2 separate regions of the Homo sapiens genome follow, and region 1 is linked to region 2. A link means that fine-mapping ties the variant in region 2 to the expression of a gene that starts in the linked region. Tissue or cell type: esophagus muscle. Region 2 holds a variant in brackets; the other region holds the start of a gene. All regions are shown on one strand. Distances are from middle to middle.

Region 1 (8,104 bases), 92 kb before region 2:
GAATGGTGCCGTCTCAGCTCACTGCAACCTCCGCCTCCTTTGTTTAAGTGATTCTGCTGCCTCAGCCTCCCAAGTAGCTGGAATTACAGGCGCCCACCACCACATCTGGCTATTTTTTTTTTTTTTTTGTATTTTTAGTAGAGAGAGGGTTTCATCATGTTGCTCCTGCTGGTCTCGAACTCCTGACCTCAGATAATCCACCTGCCTCAGCCTCCCAAAGTGCTGGGATTATGGGCATGAGCCACCGAGCCCGGCTGTTTTTTTTGTTTTTTTTTTTTTTTTTTTTTGAGACAGAGTTTTGCTCTGTTGCTCAGGCTGGAGTGCCAGTGGCGCGATTTCAGCTCACTCAGGGGTGAGCCACCACACCTGGCCTGTGATTGGCTCTGTTTTTAGTAATTATGTGCAAACCATCTAGAACCAGCTCTGGGCAATGGTGTTGCAATTTCCCTCCCTCCATGCTGGCACCATACCAGCCCCTCTCCAATGGGAGCCCAAGTTGCCAGTGACTGTGGCCAAACTCTCCATTTTTGTCTGTATCCTGCTCTCTTTAGGTTAAAAAGAAGGAAAGAAACATGAAAGGCCATGTGCAATTTATTTTTATAACTCAAGGAGTTTCCCCGACTACCATTTTTTTTGTTGCCAGTGGGTGTGCATATAGAAGAGGAATGCTATATCCTGTCCCTAGAAGTACACATGGTGGTCAGGTATGGTGGCTTATGCCTGTAATCCCAGCACTTTGGGAGGCTGAGATGGGAGGATTGCTTGAGCCCAGGAGTTCGGGACCAGCCTGGGCAACATGGCAAGACCTCTGACTCCACAAAAAAAAATTGTTTTTTTTTTGAGAGAGCATCTCACTCCGTCGCCCAGGCTGGAGTGGTATAATCTTGGCTCACTGCAACCTCTGCCTCTGTCACACACACAAACACACACACACACACACACACACACACACACACACACAAAGAAAAGAAATACAGGCGGTGTTTCAGGGAAGGGAAGGTTCTGCTGGGGTCCTGGAACTGTGACTGATGGCCTCAGGGATGCAGGAATAGGCCTTCTAGCACAGCAGCTAGTAGGCTCCCCCAGGCCATCCGCTGGCGTGTGGAGGTGCAGGACCTGGGGGAGGCAGTCCTCACCCCAGCTAGGCCAAGGGGTAGGGTTTTTAGGTCTGTTTTTAACAGAACTCAGAGCACCAGGTGAAGGTGGAAAGTTGGTAAACTGGGAAAACAAGGTCAGCATCTTACATTTTCTATACTCAGCAGAGTGTGCCATTCCCGGTTTCTGTCCTGAGGCTTTCAGAGGCCACAACAGCCAGGTTTCTTTCCATCTTCCCTCAGTCAGTATGTAGTCATTTAAAATTCTTTGGTTGTTCTGAAGATCCTTTTTTTATGTATAATTTTTACATGAAAGACAGCTGCAAAATGCAAGCCTCAGTAGAGTGGGGGAGTTTTTCAAGGTGAGAAGTCGCTGTTCTCTGCACTGAACAGGGATTGAATTTTCCTTGTCTGATGGTAGCCCATCCCCCTCCCCCGCCGCCCCCCGCAGGGATAACATTCTCAGGAATTTCTCTTGTCCTAGCCCCTTTCATTTCAAAAACAATATTAGTCTTTTGTTTTCCTTTTTCATTCATTTGTTTTTTTACAGCTTTTGTAGAGACCAACCCAAGTAGATGCCAGTGGGTATTAAACAAAAACACACATACCCAGGGGACAAGCCCTCCAGCGGTGAGGAATCTCTGCCATGTTCTCTTCCCTGCTGCCCACGAACATTACGGAGACTCCCTTAGTCTCCCCCTCCTCTTCCCCACTGAGGGGCGGCTTGTGGAGATGGAGGACTCGGGCCCATAGATGCAGACCCACTGTCAAATCCAGCAATAGTTCTCATTCTTCCAAAGCTCGAGTGCCATTTTGAGATGCCCTACCAATGACATGCAGTAAAGGACATAACCTCACAGCCTTTTTAGAAGCATTTTGAATATCTACAGTTGCCTCAATTCACGGGGCATTTCATTCCTCTGATCCAGGTTAGAGTTTTGCTAAATCTGTAGCATCCTGAGTAGCACACTAATTTTTTTTTTAGCACACTAACTTTAACTACATTAGTTGAGTGTAGTTGATACATCTGTGGCCTTGTGTCTATAAAGAGCACACTAGATTGTACCCAGCACTTTTGGATATGACATGCTAATTAGATGTATTTAACTATTCATAGGAAAGTGTATGATAAATGACTGTAATATTTCTAATAAATATATTTTGTTTCTAATTATTTTTTTCTCACTGACATGTATCAATATTTTTTCAAAGTGCCACCCTTAAACTGAGTCTGTTTTCAGACCAGCATCTTCATGCATATATCCTTGTCAGGTCACAGTCTCCACTGCAGCTGCTCTTGCGGGTGGTGCTGGAATTTTCCACAGAGGACTGGGCTCCTGCTGGTTCCTCCGCTGCCCGTGTGCAGCTTTCTTGCTCAGGCCACAGGCTTACGTGAAGATCACCCTTCAAGGCCTACCCAGGACACTGCTGAGCTGTGCAGATGTGCACACGATATGTGCAATGTCATACGTGTGACTAAATGCCAACTGAGACCCCAGAAACCACTCATAGGGGGAATTATGCCAAGATTGAGGAGGCAGGGTGATACTTTTTTTCTTTTTCTGTTTTTTTTTTTTTTTTTTTTTTTGAGATGGAGTCTAGCCCTGTCGCCAGGCTGGAGTACAGTGGCATGATCTTGACTCACTGCAACCTCCACCTCCTGGGTTCAAGCGATTCTTTTGTCTCAGCCTCCCGAGTAGCTGGGACTACAGGCACGTGCCAGCACGCCCAACTAATTTTTGTATTTTTAGTAGAGAACAAGGGGTCACCATGTTAGCCAGGATGGTCTTGATCTCTTGACCTCATGATCTACCTGCCTCTGCCTCCCAAAGTGTTGGGATTACAGGTGGGAGCCACTGCGCCCGGCCACAGATATTTTGTAAATGATTGCTTCCTTACGCCTTTCTAGTTCATGTTTTCTTATACATAGTTACATTTCTTCTTTGCTATACTAAAAATCCCTAATTTTAGTTGGTCAGAGAGAGGGATTTGAGACTGAGCTCCCATCTCCTCGGCTGCAGCATCTGATTAAAGCCTTCTTCCTTTGCAATACTCATCTCAGTGATTGGCTTTCTGTGGGTGAGCAGCGCAGGATCTAGGCTGAAGCCCTGAGGCTTCAGTGACAAAATCTGTTTTTCATAATGCTATCTGTCTTAATTGTCCTCAAGAATTAGTATTTGAGTGCTCTCTAGATTCTCCTTTGTCACCCTTCCTTCCTTTCTTTCTTCCTTTCTTCCTTCCTTCTTTCCTTCTCTTTGCTTCGTTCTCTCCTTCCTTCTTTTCTTTCTTTTTTTGAGACGGAGTCTTGCTCTGTCGCCCAGGCTGGAGTTTGGTGGCACGATATCAGCTCACTGCAACGTTCACCTCCCGGGTTCAAGAGATTCTCCTGTCTCAGCCTCTGGAGTAGCTGGGACTACAGGCACGCGCCACCACGCCCAACTAATTTTTGTATTTTTAGTAGAGAGGGTTTCACCATGTTGGCCAGGCTGGCCTCAAACTCCTGACCTCAAGTGATCTGCCCGCCTCAACCTCCCAAAGTGCTGGGATTACAGGTGTGAGCCACCGCGCCTGGCCGTCACTTTTCTTCAATCTCACTGGTGCTCGCGGGCTGAAGGGTCAGGACGGACTAGAGGCGAGCAATCCTGGTGGCACCAGGCGTTCCCCGACCCGCCCGGGTCGCCAGCTGCACGGACCCTGGGCAGATGCGCGCAGCGGCTGCGGCACACGGCGGGGAGCGGCTGCTTGGCCCCATCCTAAGGCAGCAGAATGCCCAGAGCTGGTCCCTGGCTCCAGGCGCAGGCCGAGTAGGAGCTGGGCGGGCAGCGGCGTCGGGCAGGCCCTTCCAGCCGGGCTGACAGGCCGCTCTGACCCAGCCATCTGACTCCGCTTGCGTCCTGGCAGCGCGGACCCTAGGGCAACTTTGCTGCAGTGGCCAAGCCGGGGGCGGAACTGACCCGTACCCCTGAACCGAGCAAGCCTAGGAGCAGGTGCGCCGGCGGCGCTGTGAAGCGGCACTCATGACAGGCAGGCTGGGCACCGCCACCCCGAAACCTCCGAGGGAGGACCAGCCAGCCCAGGTTGGCGCTGGAGCTGCAGCGCCACCTGCAGGCCAAGGAGTCTTTTTCTGGGAGGCTGGAGCTGCAGCGCCACCTGCAGGCCAAGGAGTCTTTTTCTGGGAGGCTGGAGCTGCAGCGCCACCTGCAGGCCAAGGAGTCTTTTTCTGGGAGGCTGGAGCTGCAGATGCAGTGAAGTCACAGGTTCCGTGATGTCACAGGTGGGCAGGCGCACTGGTCTGTAACGGATTGGCTTGGCCTTACCCACGAGGCTTTGCGGTGGCTGTTGGCTTGGCGGTGGTCGCTTGGCTTGGCGTGGCAGTGATCGCTTGGCTTGGCATTTCTGGCTTGGCGGTCCTCCTTTCGCAGATTGGAAACCGCGGGCTATCCTGCTGGGAGGTTGTGGCCGAGGCAGTAGCTCGCTACTGATGGCCTCCTGGGGTGGAGAAAAGCGGGGAGGGGCTGAGGGGTCTCCGAAGCCGGCAGTCTACGCCACGAGGAAGACCCCTAGCGTCGGGAGCCAGGGGGACCAGTGGTACTTGGGCTACCCGGGGGACCAGTGGTCCTCGGGCTTCCCCTACAGCTGGTGGAAAAACAGCGTCGGCAGCGAGAGCAAGCACGGTGAGGGCGCCTTAGACCAGCCCCAGCACGACGTCCGCCTGGAAGATCTTGGCGAGCTCCACAGAGCTGCCCGGTCGGGCGACGTCCCTGGGGTGGAGCACATCTTAGCTCCTGGAGACACTGGCGTGGACAAGAGGGATAGGAAGAAGAGGTAATGGCCAGGCGAAGGATGCGCCGTCCTGTCGGGGACACTGGCTTTCTGGTGCCCGCAGGCCCCACGGCACCCGGGATGGGGAAACGTCAGAGGGGTCAGGGGCCCAGGCCTCTTAGTGAGACGGGATCAAATATAAAGGATTATTACTATTGCAAAAGTGTTGGTCTACTTTACAGGAGTTTTCTTTAAAAATATTGCACTTCCCAACTGTGTTTATCCATTTTCTCAATTTATTCATCAAACATAAGCTGAATACCTATTATACAGCAGACATATTCTACTGTCGCTCAGGTTCCTTCCATCCTTAAGAACTTCATGTTGGCCGAGCTCGGTGGCTCATGCCTGTAATCCCAGCACTTTGGGAGGCCGAGGAGGGCAGATCACGAGGTCAGAAGTTCGAGACCAGGCTGACCAACATGGTGAAACCCCGCCTGTTATGCTTTTGTCTCAGCCTAGACTTAGCTAAGACCTTCATGATAAATTATCCTTTAGGCCCTCGGGGTTCAGTTCAAATAATGTTGCAGAAAGAGAGGAGTTTCCTTTTTTCATTGCTACCAGATCTGTATGCTGAGGACCCTTTTCTTAGATCGTGGAATGTCCCATATTATCCTTTCCCAGATTTGTGGCAGGAAGCCATCACCAGAATTCTGAGTCTCAAGTATGTTAGTTGGATTTAACAGAGCTAAGTCTCATCCATGACTCATGAATATCCATGTATAAAATGAGAGCTTTGGCAGGGTGCAGTGGCTCATGCCTGTAATCCCAGCAATTTGGGAGGCTAAGGTGGGCGGATCACGAGGTCAGGTGATTGAGAGCATCCTGGCTAACACGGTGAAACCCCGTCACTACTAAAAAATACAAAAAAAAAATAGCCGGGCGTGGTGGTGGGCGCCTGTAGTCCCAGCTACTCAGGAGGCTAAGGCTGGAGAATGGCATGAACCCAGGAGGCGGAGCTTGCAGTGAGCCGAGATCGCGCCACTGCACTCCAGCCTGGGTGACAGAGCGAGACTCAGTCTAAAACAAACAAACAAACAAACAAACAAACAAAACTTGCTTCAGCAGCAAACATATACTGAAATTGGAACAAAATGGAGAGAAATTAGCATGGCCCCTGCCTGCATAAGGATGATGCACAGATTTTTGAAGTGGTCCATATTTTGCGCAGTCACTAGAAGTTCATTTGACTATTTGCTGACTAGTTCCAAAGACAGTGTGAGTCAAAGCAAACTGGGTATCACCTAATATTAAAATTGTGATTTTTCACTACAAAAATATGCAGTAAGGTGATCAATGGAGCTGAGTAACACGTGGGATGTTGTGTGCAAATATATTGTCAGTATGTATCTCAGAAATGAGAGAATGTCAACTTGCATGTCTTTCATGGAACTGAAAAAGAAAAGTAGCATTTTGTTTTCCATGTCAGTTGGAGATGAACATGGGGATTGAGCATCCTTCTAACAAAGATCTGCCGATTCAGAGTTTGAGTCTGTATGGAACAGTAGTCCAAGCTAGGTCTTGACATCTATTAGCTTTCTCCCCTTGGCGTGATTGATGAGCTCAGTAATAGTGGACAGTGTTGTTATCTAGTTTGATGAAATAATATATTTATAAGTAAATTTAGTTACAAACTATGAACTAGCTGTGATGCCCCAAATTATAAGCCACAAAGAATAGAACTAATAAAACTAGAACTTAATAACAGTTTTGGAAAACTGCAACATTTGAATATTAGAACCTCTGGAAAAATACACATTGGGTTTTATTTGTGATTCCAAAACCATTTCCTCAATAAAGCTCAAGAACAAATTATTTCATTGCTTCACTGTTTCTCTGAGCATTTACAAAACGTTTTCTTGTTAAATCTTTAACAACCTAGTGAAATAAGGCAGTAAAATCCTTGCTTTTTAGAAGAATACATTGAGCCTAAGAGAAGCAACTTGTCAGAGAATAAATAGCTGCTGGTAATAGAGCTAGGACGCTTTCCATTATGCCAAGCTAATGTGAGTTAATTTACTGAGCTATACTCCCTTCAATTCATGAGTACTTCATCTTTTTTTCTTCTTCAGAAGCTTAAAGAGAAGTTGGTAGAACTCACAAATTGAAGTATATGGGATAATTAAAGTTCTGATATTAACTCTGATATTGTTTGAAATACTCTAAAAATTTAATATATTTGGTATTTTTCATTTGTTTTAAAATAGTAATTTCATTTATTACATTTTTATCCATAGCATTCAGCAACTAGTTCCTGAATATAAGGAAAAACAGACACCTGAAAGTCTTCCTCAAAATAACAATCCAGGTAAGACTTCTGATAGTGAATTATTTTTGGTGGTCCTACCATAGGTAAAAAAGAAGTAAGAGTAAGGAAGTTTTGATCATGAAAGAGCAGTTTTAAAAAATCTTTATTTCTTTCTTGATAGGTTAGATTTCTTGGTAGGTTAGATGTCACAATTATTTAAAAAGTTAATTGTAGGTCATTTATTTTTTCAAACAATCTGGTCTGAAAAAAAATTAATTATGGTCCCTAAAATCCTATGTGATATTTTTGTATAAATAAGAAAAAGTGTTTTTTTTTGTTTTTTTTTTGAGACGGAGTCTCGCTGTCGCCCAGGCTGGAGTGCAGTGGTGCGATCTCGGCTCACTGCAGGCTCCACCCCCTGGTTCACGCCATTCTCTTGCCTCAGCCTGCGGAGTAGCTGGGACTACAGGCGCCCGCCACCCCGCCCGGCTAATTTTTTGTATTTTTAGTAGAGATGGGGTTTCACCGTGTTAGCCAGGATGGTCTCGATCTCCTGACCTCATGATCCATCCGCCTCGGCCTCCCAAAGTGCTGGGATTACAGGCGTGAGCCACCGCGCCCGGCCAAGAAAAAGATATTTTTGAGTTAGTAAGTTGTATGTTTTCTTTATAGTCACCTTATAATGAATTAGACTTGTTATGAAATTGGAACTTCTATTTAATTTTTAAAATAAATGACTTATGTTTAGTAAATGAATATCAATCACAATTGACCCTTAACAATGTGGAATTTAGGGATGCTTGATTCCCTCTGCAGTCAAACATCTGTGTATAACTTTTGACTCCCCCAAGAACGTAACTACTAATAGCTAACTGTTGACCAGCAGCCTTATTGATAACATAAACAGTCAATTAAGATATGTTTGGTATGGTATATGTAT
Region 2 (8,104 bases):
AATTCATAGCATTAAATGCCTATATCAAAAAGTCTGAAAGAGCACAAATAAACAATCTAAGGTCACACCTCACAGAATTGGAGAAACTAGAACAGTCCAAATCCAAACCCAGCAGAAGAAAAGAAATAACAAAATCAGAACAAAACTAAATGAAATTGAAACAAAAAAATACAACAGATAAATGAAAAAGCTGGTTCTTTGAAAAGATAAATAAAATTGATAAGCATTAGCAAGATTAATCAAGAAAAGAAGAGAGAAGATCCAAATAAGCTCTATTAGAAATGAAATGGGAGATATTACCACTGATACCACAGAAATACAAAAGATTATTCAAGACTACTATGAACATCTTCACATCCATAAACTAGAAAACCTACAGGAGATCGATAAATTCCTGGAAATATACAACCCTCCTGGATTAAATTAGGAAGATATAGAGACTCTGAACAGACCAATCAGAAGCAGCAAGATTGAAAATGGTAATTTAAAAATTGCCAACAACAAAAAAGTCCAGGACCAGATGAATTCACACCTGAATTCTATCAGACATTCAAAGAATTGGTACTCATCCTATTAACACTATTTCACAGGATAGAGAAAGAGAAATCTTCCCTAAATCATTTGATGAAACCAAAATCACCATGATATGGTTTGGCTCTGTGTCCCCACCCAAATCTCATCTTTTAGCTCCCATAATTCCCACATGTTGTGAGAAGGACCCAGTAGGAGATGATTGAATCATGAGGGCGGGTCTTTTCCATGCTGTTCTCATGACAGTGAGTGAATGTCACAAGATCTGATGGTTTTAAAAACAGGACTTTCTCTACACAAGCTCTTTCTTTTTGCCTGCTGCCATCCACGTAGGATGTGACTTGCTCTTCCTTGACTCTACCATGACTTTGAGGCCTCCCCAAATATGTGGAACTGTAAGTCAAATAAACCTCTTTCTTTTGTAAATTGCCCAGTCTCAGATATGTCTTTATCAGCAGTGTGAAAATGGACTAATACACACCCTAATACTGAAACAGACTAATAGACACCCTAATACCAAAAGCAAGGAAGGACATAATGAGAAAAGAAAGCTACAGACCAACATCCCTGATGAACAGAGATGCAGTAATCCTCAAAAAAAATACTAGCTAGCTGAATCTAACAACATATCAAAAAGATAATCCATCATGATCAAGTGGGTTTCATACCAGGGATGCAGGGATGGTTTAACATCTACAAGTCAATAAATGCGATACACTACATAAACAGAATTAAAAAACAAAAGTCACATGATCATCTCAATAGATGCAGAAAAACCACTTGAGAAAATCCAGCATCCTTATTTTATTAAGACCCTCAGCAAAATCAGCATAGAAGGGACATACATTAAGGTAATAAAAGCCATCTATGACAAACCCACAGCCAGCATTATACTGAACAGGGAAAAGTTGAAAGCATTCCTCCTGAAAACTGGAAGAAGACAAGATTGCCCGCTTTCTCCACTTCTATTCAACATGGTACTGGAAGTTCTAGCCAGAGCAATCAGACAAGAGAAAGAAATCAAGGGCATCCAAAGTGGTAAAGAAGAAGTCTGCCTATTGCTGTTTCCCAATGATATGATTGTATACCTAGAAAACCCTAAAGACTCATCCAAAAAGCTTCTAGAACTGGTAAATGCATTCAGCAAAGTTTCAGGATACAGAGTTACACACAAGTGTGCACAAATCCGTAGCTGTGCTATACACCTTCAGCGACCAAGCCAAGAATCAAATCAATAACTCAACCCTTTTTACAATAGCTACAAATAATAATAATAATAATAAAATACTTAGGAATGTTCCTAACCAAGGAGGTGAAAGATCTCTGCGTGGAAAACTACAAAACACTACTGAAAGAAATCACAGATGACACAAACAAATGGCAGCACATCCCATGCTCATGGATGGGTAGAATCAATATTGTGAAAATGACCATACTGCCAAAAGCAATCTACAAATTTAATCCAATTCCCATCAAAATACCACCATCATTCTTTACAAAATGATGAAAAATAATCCCAAAATTCATATGGAACCAAAAAAGAGCCTACATAGCCAAAGGAAGACTAACCAAAAAGAATAAATCTGGTGACATCACATTACCTAACTCCAAACTATTCTGTAACACCATAGTCACTAAAACAGCATGATACTGGTATAAAAATAGGCACATAGACCAATGGAACAGAATAGAGAACCCAGAATTAAAGCCAAATACTTACAGCCAGCTGATCTTCAACAAAGTGAGGAAAGGACACCCTATTCAACAAATAGTGCTGGGATAATTGGCTAGCCACATTTAGGAGAATGAAACTGGATCCTTATCTCTCACCTTATACAAAAATCAACTCAAGATGGATCAAGAACTTAAGACCTGAAGCCTTAAAAATTCTAGAAGATAACATTGGAAAAACCCTTCTAGACATTGGCTTAGGCAAAGACTTCATGACCAAGAAGCTCAAAACAAATGCAACAAAAACAAAAGATAAATAGATGGGACTTAACTAAACTAAAAAGCTTTTGCACAGCAAAAGAAATAATTAGCAGAGTTAACAGACAACACACAGAGTGGGAGAAAATCTTCACAACCTACACATCCAACAAAGGACTAATATTCAGAATCTACAAAGAACTCAAATCAGTAAGAAAGAAACCAATCCCATAAAAAAGTGGGCTAAGGACACGAATAGACAATTCTCAAAAGAAAATATACAAATGGCCAACAAGCATATGGAAAAATGCTCAACATCACTAATGATCAGGGAAATGCAAATCAAAACCACAATGCGATATCACCTCATTCCTGTAAGAATGGCAATATTAAAAAAATTAAAAAATAATAGATGTCGGCATGGATGTGGTGGAAAGGGAGCACTTTTATAGTGTTGATGCTAATGTAAACTAGTACAACCACTATGGAAAACGGTGTGGAGATTGCTTAAAGAACTAAAAGTAGATCTACCATTTGATCCAACAACCCCATTCCTCAGTATCTACCCAGAGGAAAAGAAGTCATTATACAAAAAAGATACTTGTACACACGTTTATAAGCAGCAAAATTCATAATTGTGAAAATATGGAACCAGCCCAAATGCCCATCAATCAATGAGTGGATAAAGAAAATGTGATATGTGCACACACACCCCATGGAATACTACTCAGCCATAAAAAGGAGCAAACTG[G/A]ATGGAATTGGAGACCATTCTTCTAATTGCAGCAACCTGGATGGAATTGGAGACCATTCTTCTAAGTGAAGTAGCTCAAGAATGGAAAACCAAACATCATATGTTCTCATATGTGGGAACTAAGCTATGAGAATGTAAAGGCATAAGAATGATACAGTGGACTTTGGGGACTCAGGGGAAATGGTGGGAAGGGAGTGAGAAATAAAAGACTACACATTGAGTACAGTGTACACTGCTCGGGTGAGGGATGCACCAAAATCTCAAAAATCACCACTAAAGAACTTATTTATATAACCAAACACCACCTGTTCCTTAAAAACCTATTGAAATAAAAAGTAAATTTAAAAAAAACCTCCTGGATTCATTGATTTTTTTGAAGGTTTTTTTGTGTCTCTATTTCAGTTCAGCTCTGATCTTGGTTATTTCTTGTCTTCTGCTAGCTTGGGAGTTTGTTTCCTCTTGGTTCTCTAGTCCTTTTAGTTGTAATATTAGGTTGTTAACTTGAGATCTTTCTCTCTTTTTGATGTGGGCATTTAGTGCTATAAATTTTCCTCTTAACACTGCTTTAGCTGAGTCCTGGAGATTCTGTTATGTTGTCTCTTTGTTCTAATTAGTTTTAAAACACTTCTTGATCTCTGCCATAATTTTATTATTTACCCCAAAGTCATTCAGGAGCAGATTGTTCAATTTCCATATAGTTGTGTGGTTTTAAGTGAATTTCTTAATCTTGAGTTCTAATTTGATTGTGCTGTGGTCTGAGAGACTCTTTGTTATGATTTCAGTTATTTTTCATTTGCTGAGGAGTGTTTTTCTTCCTAATTTATGATTAGTTTTAGGGTAAGTGTCATGTGGCTATGAGAAGAATGTATATTCGCTTGTTTTTTGTTGGAGAGTTCTGTAGATATCTATCATGTCTACTTGATCCACAGCTGAGTTCAGGTCCTGAATATCTTTGTTAATTTTCTGTCTCCATGATGTGTCTAATATTGTCATTGTGGTGTTAAAGTCTCCCACTATTATTGTGTGGGAGTCTAAGTCTCTTTGAAGGTCTCCAATAACTTGCTTTATGAACCTGGGTGCTCTTGTATAGGGTGCATATATATTTAGGATAGTTAGCTCTTCTGGTTGAATTGAACCCTTTACCAACAGGTAGTGCTCTTCTTTGTCTTTTTTGATCTTTGTTAATTTAAAGTCTGTTTTGTTAGAAACTAGGATTGCAAGCTCTGTTTTTTTCTGCTTTCTGTTTGCTTGGTAAATTTTCCTCCATCCCTTTATTTTTAGCGTATGTGTTTCTTTGTGTGTGAGATGGGTCTCTTGAATACAGCATACTGATGGGTCTTGGTTCTTTATCTAGCTTGCCATTCTGTGTCTTTCATTGGAGAACACATTGAGATTTAAGGTTAGTAGTATTATATGTGGATTTGATCTCATCATCATGATGCTAGCTGGTTATTTTGCTAACTTGTTTGTGTGGTTGCTTCACAGTGTCACTGTTCTTTGTACTTTAGTGTGTTTTTCTGGTGCCTGGTAATGGTTTTTCCTTTTCATATTTACTGCTTCCTTCAGGAGCTCTTGCAAGACAGGTCTGGTAGTAACAAGTTCCCTCAGCATTTGCTTGTCTGAAAAGCATCTTATTTATCCTTTGCTTATGAAGCTTGGTTTGGCCAGATGTGAAATTCTGGGTTGGAAATTCTTTTCTTTAAGAATGTTGAATATTGGTTCCCAGTATCTTCTGACTTGTAGGGTTTCCACTGAGAGGTCGGCTGTTCATCTGATGGGGTTCCCTTTGTAGGTGACCTGGCCTTTCTGTCTGACTGCCCTTAACATTTTTTCTTTCATTTAGAGTTTGGAGAATCTGATGATTATGTGTCTCAGGGATGATCTCCTCGTGGAGTATCTCACTGGAGTTCTCTGGATTTCTTGAATTTGAGTGTTGGCCTGTCTTGCTAGAACTAACCTGGGGAAGTTAGTTCTCTTGAATCCTATGCTGAAGTATGTTTTCCAACTTGGTTCCATTCTCCTTGTCTTTTTCAGGTACCCCAATCCATCATAGATTCGTTCTCTTTATGTAATCCCATATTTTTTGATGGTATCGTTCGTTCCTTTTCATTCTTTTATCTCTATTCTTGTCTGCCTGTCTTATTTCAGAAAGATTGTCTTCAAGCTCTGAGATTCTTTTCTTGGGCTATTCTGCTGTTAATAATTGTGATTTCATTGTGAAGTTCTTGTAGTGTGTTTTTCAGCTCTAACAGGTGAGTTATGTTTTTCTCTAGACCGGCTATTTTGGCTGTCCGCTCCTGTATTGTTTTGTCATGATTCTTAGTTTCTTTGCATTGGGTTACAAGATGCTCCTTTAGGTCATTGAAGTTCACTGTTATTCACATTCTGAAGCCTACTCTGTCATTTCAGCCATCTCAGGCTCAACCCAGTTCTGAGCCCTTGCTGGAGAGGTGTTGCAGGGATATTCTGGCTTTTTGAGTCCTCAGGATTTTGGGGTTATTTCTCATCTCTGTGGGTCTATCTTAAACTTTGACCTTGAGGATGGGGTTTTTGTGGCTTTTTAAATTGTTATTGTTGTTGTTTCCTGCTTGTTTTTCTTTTAACAGTCTGGCCACTCTTCTGCAGGGCTGCTGCAGTTTGCTGGGGGTTCGCACTATACCCTAGTTGCCTCGGTTTTTCCCATAGCTGGAGGTATCATCAGTGAAGTCTGTGAAACAGCAAAGATGGCTGCCTGCCACTTCCTCTGGAAGCTCCAGCCCAGCAGCGTACTGACTTATTGCTGGCTCGAAAGTGCATGTAAGGAGGTGGCTGGAGACCCCAGTTGGGAGGTCTCCTCCAGTCAGGAGAAATGGGATAAGGGACCTGCTTAAAGAATGATTCTGGCTACTTTTTGGTAGACCAGCTGTGCTGTGTTGGGGATCCCTTCAGTTCCCATTCAGTTTGGGCTGTCCAAAGGCCCACAGGCTGAATTGGCTGAGAAGCTTGAAAGGCCTAGGTGGCAGCCTGCCCCACCCCTCAGGCACTCCATCCCGGGAAGAAATTAGAGCTCTGTTAGCCCCATAGAACATGAGTGACCTACAATTTTGATTTGCCCTTTTACTGGTGATGTTGGCATTGATCACAAACAGTGGTGTCTGCTAGCTTTCTCCTCTGTAATGTTACTTTTTCACCTTGTAATTAATTAATATTAATATTTTGTGGGGAGGTAATTTGAGACTATGTAGATATCTCTGTTCTTCATCAAACTCAATTTATTCATTTACTTGATTTGATATTTACTTGTGGTTTATTTCATTTAATAGGTTATAATTTGACAATTTTTTTAACAATTTTTTTCTTTTTAGAAATGTTTTATTTTGACAATTTTAGACTTATAGAAAAATAGTAAGAAACCTACAAAACATTCTTGGATACTATTCCCCAAATGTGAACATTTTACTATATTTGCTTTATCCTTTCTCCCCCTTTTCCTCTTCTCTTTCTAGGTAAATATAAATGTAGGTGCATAATATAGACTTTTTCTGAATGGTTTATAAGTTGCAGGTATGATGCCTCTTTATTTCTAAATAATTTTATGTGTGTCTCCTAAAAACAATGCATTATCTTGCATAATTATAGTATAACTATCAAAATCAGGAAATTAAAAATGGTTTACTGTTAATATCTCATCCATAAACCTTATTTTACTTTTTTCAGTTGTCTCAATAATATTTTTTATAGCCAAATAATTTAAGATGGGTGATTTTACAATCCATGATGTTGACTTTCATAATCCATGATGTTGAGAGGTTTCAGCATTTTTACGTTGATTCTTTCTCATCTCTGTGGGCCTATCTACCTTTGATGTTTGAGGTTGCTGGCCTTTGGAGGAGGTCGATCTGTGTCAAATTATTCTGTCTTTTTAGTCTCTTTTAGTCCAGCATGATTCCTGAGTCTTTCCTTGATTTTCATGGCATTTATGTGTTTGAAGAGTATGGGTCAGTTTTTTGTGGATTTTCTCTCAGTTTGGGTTCATAGGATATTTCTTCATGATTCAGTTCAGGTTATACCATTCAGGCAGGAAGGTCACACAAGTGAGGCTGAGTTCTTCCCAATGCAGCATATCTGGAGGCATATGCTGTTACTTGGCTCCATTACTGGCCAGTGTTGGCTTTGTTTGAGAATCTACCAGGTCTGTCCATGATAAAGTGACTATCTACCCTTTGTTTTTCACCAATGTCTTACGTGAACATAGTTTGAGGCTCTGTAAATATCTGGTTACTCTAAACATCTCACCCACTAGATTTAGCATTTCATTGATTATTTTTGTTGGGTCAGTTATTATTATGGTGGTTGCCAAATCATGATTGTCTTCATCTTTCATTCCTTCTAAGTGGATAAGTAAAACAAAACAAAACCAACCAACAAATAGGGGAGAAGGGAAAATTTATTGTTTTGCTGTTCAGGTTCCCTCCGCTTTGACCAGTGGTAGCCATTTCAAGCTGAGTTCATGTCTTTTTGAACTGTCCTTATTGTTCTTTGAATACTTCCTTACTTTCTGGCATAAGCTGTTTCAACCATACTTCGTATTTTCTCTGCCCTAGCCCTTGAATCAGCCATTTTCATTTTTTTCCAGAAGCCCTGACTTTCTTTAGGGGACAGTAATTAGAAACCAATATCTGGGCAGTAATTGTGGTAGATACGTATGGCTATTGGAGTTGTCATTGCTCATAGGCTTCCTCAGTGAACAGAGCAGAAAAATACAGCTAGATGGATAAATATACAAACATACATGCTTATATTCATCCATATTTCTATATTAGAATATACTGAAAACCATGAGTTCTTCCTGGTGATTCTAATTCCAGTTGAATCACACATGGCTCATTTTAGTTTTTTTTTCCCTTTCAGTAC

Evidence for each region. PIP is the estimated chance that this variant, and not a neighbour inherited with it, causes the effect.
Region 1: CCDC144A starts here. The variant in region 2 is fine-mapped to the expression of CCDC144A in esophagus muscle (GTEx, PIP above 0.99). The same link has a PIP of 0.9 or more in lung and testis.

The regions. Positions count from the first base shown.
Region 1 is chr17:16,685,826-16,693,929 of GRCh38, forward strand. CCDC144A (coiled-coil domain containing 144A) reads left to right here and starts at 4,416. Exons shown (of 17, transcript NM_001382000.1): 1 at 4,416-4,919; 2 at 7,154-7,224. The coding sequence starts at 4,576. It also overlaps the pseudogene RNU6-405P. RefSeq lists enhancers at 1,118-1,618, 3,406-4,309.
Region 2 is chr17:16,777,727-16,785,830 of GRCh38, forward strand. CCDC144A (coiled-coil domain containing 144A) reads left to right here. Exons shown (of 17, transcript NM_001382000.1): 17 at 1-155. Among named protein-coding and RNA genes, the nearest start is that of FAM106C, 7.1 kb to the right of the region's middle. The variant G/A (reference allele first, on the strand shown) is at 3,212.